Homo sapiens: one gene and its partner. The protein of the gene in region 2 interacts with the protein of the main gene of each other region in a pairwise test. Each region holds a gene or a part of one and is shown on either strand. Other genes may lie near its edges.

The links.
Region 1: the proteins of NELL1 (region 2) and ATN1 interact in a two-hybrid assay, tested with the Homo sapiens proteins (one large-scale study listed by BioGRID and IntAct).

Annotation. Positions count from the first base shown.
Region 1 is NC_000012.12:6,930,959-6,934,458, reverse strand, and holds part of ATN1 (atrophin-1), read right to left. Parts: intron 620-3,500; 5' UTR 458-619; coding exon 431-457; intron 284-430; coding exon 146-283; intron 1-145. UniProt on the Homo sapiens protein: Transcriptional corepressor. Recruits NR2E1 to repress transcription. Promotes vascular smooth cell (VSMC) migration and orientation. Corepressor of MTG8 transcriptional repression.
Region 2 is NC_000011.10:20,924,586-20,928,085, reverse strand, and holds part of NELL1 (protein kinase C-binding protein NELL1 isoform 1 precursor), read right to left. Parts: intron 1,374-3,500; exon of another isoform or gene 1,290-1,373; intron 779-1,289; coding exon 644-778; intron 1-643. UniProt on the Homo sapiens protein: Plays a role in the control of cell growth and differentiation. Promotes osteoblast cell differentiation and terminal mineralization.

The sequences.
Region 1 (3,500 bases), on a different chromosome or scaffold from region 2:
GAGAGAAAGAGAAAATTCCTGTCTTTTCCCTACCTCCCGAGCTCCACCGTTACCCTCTGCCAAACAGGAAGTTCCCCCACAACACACACACACCCTCAGCCCCAGTGCCTTGGGCATCCTGTGGGAGGACCTGAGGACAGAATACCTTGGCTGTCTGCCTGGACTTCTCAGCTTTGCCATCACTGCTGGACGTGCTGACCCCTCCAGGGGAGGCCCGGCCCCTCGATCTCAGTTCTTCCCGGGGCCCAGGGGCCTCTTTCTTCCGTCCACTCCTCATTGACATCTACAGGAGGAGGAAGGAGGTAGGTAACACTGTTCTTTACATTGCACCTAACTTTATGGTGCACATTATTTGTTCTTCTTCTCTAGACCCTTCCTCCTAGCTTGCCTGCCCCGCCCCTCATCTTTCATGTCTCTCATTTTAACTCACCGAGTCTTTATTCTGTCGTGTCTTCATTCTTCAGGCTGTGGAGACCCCATTCTCCTCTGCCTGGGCAGCTGAATACAGAAACTTCTCTGCTCCACCCCAAGTTCCCCACAGCTGTGGTCTGGGAAGCAGGATCTCCAAGTTTCCAGTGTGGGCACCTGGAACTTTTGCAGGATCTGTTTTCAATGAAACCTGTTAGAAGGAAACCATCAGAGTCTCCAACTTGGAGAACAGAGTCACAAAGGAATACTATTCTGCTTGTCAGAGAACTGAGCAAGCGGCCCAACCCTAAGCCTTTGGGCCAAGAGGTACAGATACCACAAGACATTGCTGGCATGCCCCATGGGCTACCTTAGCTATCTAAAAGGGAGGCAGATTCTGCTCGAAGTATAATCTCTTTCATCTCTGTAGAGGGCAGAAAATTCGGATGTACCTACAAGCCCCAATCCAGGAGATCACACAGTTTACCCTTCATGATCCCTAAAGGATATTTGTGAACACACACATTCCACGGAGCCTTACAAAGGAACATAAAGAAATGGAGCGGGGCATGGTGGCTCATGTCTATAATTCCAGCACTTTGGGAGGCCTAGGTGGATGGACCACAAGGTCAGGAGTTCAAGACCAGCCTAGCCAACATGGTGAAACCCAGCCAGGCGTGGTGGCACGTGCCTGTAATCCCAGCTACTCAGGAGGCTGAGGCAAGCAAATCACTTGAACCTGGGAGGCAGAGGTTGCAGTGAGCCGAGATCATGCCACTGCACTCCAGCCTGGGTGACAGAGTAAGACTCTGTCTCAAAAAAAAAAAAAGAAAAAAGAAATGACATTGAAGTATGAATTTATTGAATACCTTCTTTATATCAAGCCCTTCACATACATGATTTCATTTAATATTTACAACCAACCCTGAATGGTAAGCATTATTACCCTCATTATATAGGTGAGGGAACTGAGGCTCAAAGATTGTGATTGTGACTAGCCCAACCTCACACAGTGAGGAACCAGTGACAGAGCCAGAATCAAACCCATGTCGGTGACTTCAAAGCCCATGCTCTTTCTTCTATACTTTGCTGTATTCTCCTCAGAAGTTGCTGGGGAGAATTCTCAGAAGGCCTAGATCAGTCACAGAGATATGAAAAGAATCTTTTCTCACATCAGAGTAGGTAGAAGAAGAATGTCCCATTCTATAATACAAAGGAACACAGCCCTACCAATCCCAAGACTAAACCTAGGTAGCCCCAAATTGTAGAACTTCATTTTTGAGAGCCCCATAAAGGACCCATTCTCTAGTACTTGAGCTCCCTAAGGCTAGAGGAAAAGTCAGGGTTTTCACATGAATGATTAAAGACTCAAAATATCCGTGAGCAAACAACACAGATGTACCAGTTTTTAAGCCTATCCTCCTACTTGGTGTAGACTGGGTTACACAGTTTCTCACAGCCAATCCATCCGTATCTGTCTATCAGCAGGTATCTATCTTTATCCAAATCCCTATAGCCAGCTGTATTCATTTGCACTTGTTTGTATTTCTTGCTAAGTGTCAAGTCCCTCCAAATTACTGATTGTAAGATCTTTTGAGAGCAAAAATGGTATTTTCTTACTGTTTTCTTCCTTTCCACTGATGTGTGTGCGCTCTTCTTGTGATTGACCTTTAAACCCACTAACATCAGTAGGTCTTTCTTCCTGAATTAAGTGCTGCTAGCTCCAGTGGGAACAGACTAAGCTTACCCATGTATTCTATTCTGAGTTGGAGGCCTGCTAGGTAAACGGCATGTCCATATTCTGTAGTGTATTTTTTCCCAAGAAACACAGTAATTCTCACTCACCTCCACGGAACCATACTGATGCAGGCAGTAAGGGGTGAGTCTAACCTTTCCAGGAAACTTCACAATTTACTTAGAATCACAAAATTGCTGGGACAGAGCCTATCTTCTGAACTTTCAACTGATGCTCTGCCCAGTAGACTTGTCTTTTTTTTTTTTTTTTTTTTTTTTTTTGAGACAGAGTTTCACTCTTGTTGCCCAGGCTGGAGTGCAGTGGCGTGATCTCACTCACTGCAACCTCTGCCTCCCAGGTTCAAGCGATTCTCCTGCCTCAGCCTCCTGAATAGCTGGGATTACAGGCATGCACCACCACACCCGGCTAATTTTTTGTATTTTTAGTAGAGACAGGGTTTCACCATGTTAGTCAGGGTGGTCTCGAACTACTGACCTCAGGTGATCTGCCTGCCTCGGCCTTCCCAAGTGCTGGGATTACAGGCGTGAGCCACTGTGCCCGGCCAACTAGTTTTCTTTTTTTTTCCTTTTTTTTTTTTTTGAGATGGATCTTTGCTCTTGTTCCCCAGGCTGGAGGTGCTATGGCATGATCTCAGCTCACTGCCACCTCCGCCTCCCAGGTTCAAGCGATTCTCCTGCCTCAGCCTCCCAAGTAGCTGGGATTACAAGCGCACACCACCACACCTGGCTAATTTTTGTATTTTTAGTAGAGACGGAGTTTCACCATGTTGACCAGGCTGGTCTCGAACTCCTGACCTCAGATGATCCACCTGCCTCAGCCTCCTAAAGTGTTGGGATTACAGGCGTGAGCCACCATGCCCGGCCTTTTTTTTTTTTTTTTTTTTTTCAACTACAGCTATTTTCCCACATTTTTTAGTTGTTATGTAGACTGGTTTTAAAATACTATCAACCAAAAAAAAAAAAAAATCCGAAGAACAACACCCACCATAGCAAAAGAGGAAAACAATCTTAAACAAAAAGCACAACAAAGATGACTATTTGTGATTGGTGTATTTTTGCCAGCCCTCCTAGAGAAGGGTGTCCATCTCCCTTCCCCATCACAGAACCTGTTCACCAAGTCAGTTAGGTTAGGGGATCCAAAAGGTCAGAGAAACACAGGAATGTACCTGAGGAACACAGCAATCATAGTATGCCCTTCTTTTTTAATCACCTGAAATCTGATAAAAACTAGCAATGAGAAGCTTTGAAGGAGAAAAGCAGTCATAAAAGAACAAGTAATCCTGGGGATAAGGAGTGGCAGACGAGGAAAGGAGTTAGGGGTGGATTGTGTGTCTTTC
Region 2 (3,500 bases):
TTTGCAGACTCTGTCAATCATTTCTGAGGCTCTAACAATCTGTTTTGTATTTTCCTAGACAAACAATGGCATTCTTCAGATATTTATCAAGTAATTTCAACTGGACAGGGTTTCCATACTAATTTTTGGAGGGGGATGTTGTAATTCACTGAAACAGATGAAGGGATATACAAATAATGGATATCCTCACACTGACAGTGAGTCAGGGAGGAAATGCCTTGCAATTATTTGAAACAGGTGATGGATACACTTTGCAAAAGACAATAAAAACATGTAGAAAATAATTAAACTCCCCTTTTAAAGTTATTCTGGTTGTGAATAAGGATAACCATTAGGTTGTTTGAAAATCAAAGGAGTCCCTTCTTTCCACTATATCCCAACCTTCAAACTCCAAACATTGCCTATTAAATCAAATTAGGGTGTGTTGGCAAGGGAAAGCAGATTTTAATTTCCAAGTATTCATATAAGACATGACACTCTTCCAGCATTGCTTCACAATTGCTCGTATGGCTAGTGGGTGCTAGGTAAAAACCTAACAATTCTCAGAGTTAATATTATTTATTAAAGAACCAGGTTACACTCTAATTATCAAACCTCTCCCCTTAAAACTGTTTTTACTGTATTTATTTACAAAGAGGCTTACTTTGCAAGTGCAGTTCCTGCAATGGTCACCATCTACCCAAGAGTCTTGATCTCGATAGAGCAGTCCACTCACTTGACAAGTCTTCTCACAATGACAGTTTTCCAATTGACTAAGTCTTGTCTCTGCATAATTTAGCTGCAAACAAGAGTTACTGAATGTAATTTCTGTAATTCAATTGCATCATCCTAACAAAGCTAATAGCAACAAGAAAAAAAATCCTTCTGAGAAGAGAAAAAAATGCTCAGAGCAGTTCACTGATTCTTAGCATTATCTGTTTTTTGTTTTTTTTATTTTTTTTACACAAGGTGGAATCACTCTAAATTGAAGAAATATTGGCTGTCATGGTCTAATGAATACCAAATGAGACATTAAACTGTAACTCAGGAACCTCATGGGTGTTCATAAATGTGTGTGCTTTCCATTCAAGCCCACACAAAAACACTCATAATGAATGTGTTCTCAAGGACTCATTATGATGTTTACAGGCGATCTAATCAGGAACTCCGAGGCACTTACATTTATCTCCCACTATCCTCTCTATGTTCTTCACACACTAACTAGAATGTCGTGGTTTACAAACTAGGAAGTCACTGCCTTCTGTCTGATGAAAAATTCTGGAGAGCTGGGGTCAGAAAAAAAGAAAAGTCGTAAGCGGATCCCCCAAACAGAATGCCCCAGGAATTCACTTTTGTGCTTAGAAGAAGGACAGGAAAAGTAACCAAAACCCCAGGTAAGATCAGAATTTTGTAAAATAACCTTTTTTATTTTTCTAGGCCACCCAGTCATTGCCAATAATCACAGAGTCTTAGACTCTCCTGCTGGAAAGGGATTATAAAGCTTGAATATCCTCACAAGAAACCTCAAGTGATTATCTAGCCTTTGTACATCTCCAGTGGAGGAACATGTATTATCTTCCAAGGAAAGCCACTTTTCTCAGTTAGCTCTCTTGTTTGAAACATTTTTCATGGTTTTGGCTGTGAAATCTTTCTTTTTTTCCTGCCATACCTAGGTTTTCATTGTAATCCATCCTGAGCAAACCTAATCTTCAAGCATTTGAGGTTATCCTGTCGTCTTGACCACACTTGGCACCACCAGGTTCCCTTAACAGCTCCTCATGATATGATTCCAAGCCTCTCTTCTGATCACTTTTCATACAGCCTACTCCAGTTTACCTTCAAAAATATGGTGCAAAAAAACCCTAAATACAGCACTTTGATATGATCTGTCTACTGTCACATCCACACGAAAGAGTAACTCAACCTAGTAGTGATATTACTCTTCCTTTCCTTTCCCTTACATAGAGACCACCATGATTGAAAAACAAGTATCGTTTCCTAGAAAATTATCTGAGTTTCTCTTTTCCTTCTCAATCATGTTTATCCTTTCATGTCTTAAGTACTTTCCCCATACAGGAGATCAATTCAACCTTTGATCTAACTAAGATTATTTTGAGCCACTATTTTAGACATAATAGATAAACCTAGGGAATGACTTCCACCATCTTTCTACATTAACTATGGTTCCATTTCATACACCTTCCTCTGACTTACTCATACCAGAACTACTCTCTGGAAATGGAATCCACATGTAATTCTAACCTTTGTTTTTGTCATTTATTTCATCCTCTTCCTCCAAGCTTTTGGAATTTCTCAAGAAAATTTACCCCTTGTCTGCCTTTTGTGGGTGGTAGCAAAGGGTAGAAAAAACAAAAAATAGGATCTTAGACCAACCACCATGCACCATGAGCAGCCCCTAAAGAACTAAGAGTTGACGCTGCCTGAAATATTAGCTTCCTATCACTCCTTCTAATATGCATGATCTTCTAAAAATCCATGTTTCATTTAAAACTCCAGCCTAGGTCAAGTGCAGTGACTCACACCTATAATCCCAGCACTTTGGGAGGCCAAGACGAGCAGATGACCCAAGGTCAGGAGTTTGAGACCAACCCAGCCAACATGGCGAAACCCTGTCTCCACTACAAATACAAAAAAAAAAAAAAAAAAAGCCGGGTGTGGTAGCGGGTACCACCAGCTACTCTGGAGGCTGAGACATGAGAATCTCTTGAACCTGGGAGGCAGAGGTTGCAGCAGGCCAAGATCATGCCAGTGCACTCCAGCCTGGGCAACAGAGCGATACTCCATCTCAATAAATAAATAAATTAATACAACAAAACTCCAGCCTAATCATAGAGTTTATAGAATCTATGATAATTAAGTTATTTGGCAATGCTTTAGGAAACGGATAAAATACACTGCTGAGTTTGGTGATACTCTTGGACACTGAGGGATGATGGCATATGGTTTGGCCACTTGCAGATACCAAAATCTGAAAATCTTCAAGTCCTTTATATAAAATAGTATAGTTTGCATATAACGTATGCACATCCTCCTATACACTTTAAGTCATCTCTAGATAACTTATAATAAGTAATACAATGTCTAAACATCAATTCATTCACATGGATTCAATGCAGTACTCGGTACATGGAAAATTCAAGTTTTACTCTCTGTAACTTTTTGGAATTTTTTTCTGAGTATTGTTGGTCCATGGTTGGTTGAATCCACAGATGTGGAACCTCAATAGAAAGAAAGTAACAACTTATCACTTATCTTTACTTCATTTCCATAGCCCCAGTAGTTCCTACACAAGGCAGTAACAGATATATGACCTTGGATTGAACAACAGAGTTGAACCAGATCTGCATTCCTCCTAAAAGGGTCTCAGAATTGTGTACCTTTGTGAGAGGACCCATACGTGCCTTACTCTGAAAATCTGGAACAATTCTGGTGTCTATATCACTCCAAGAAGGGAACTTCTTAAGGACTAAATGGCCCAAAAGGCAACTCTATATCTATCT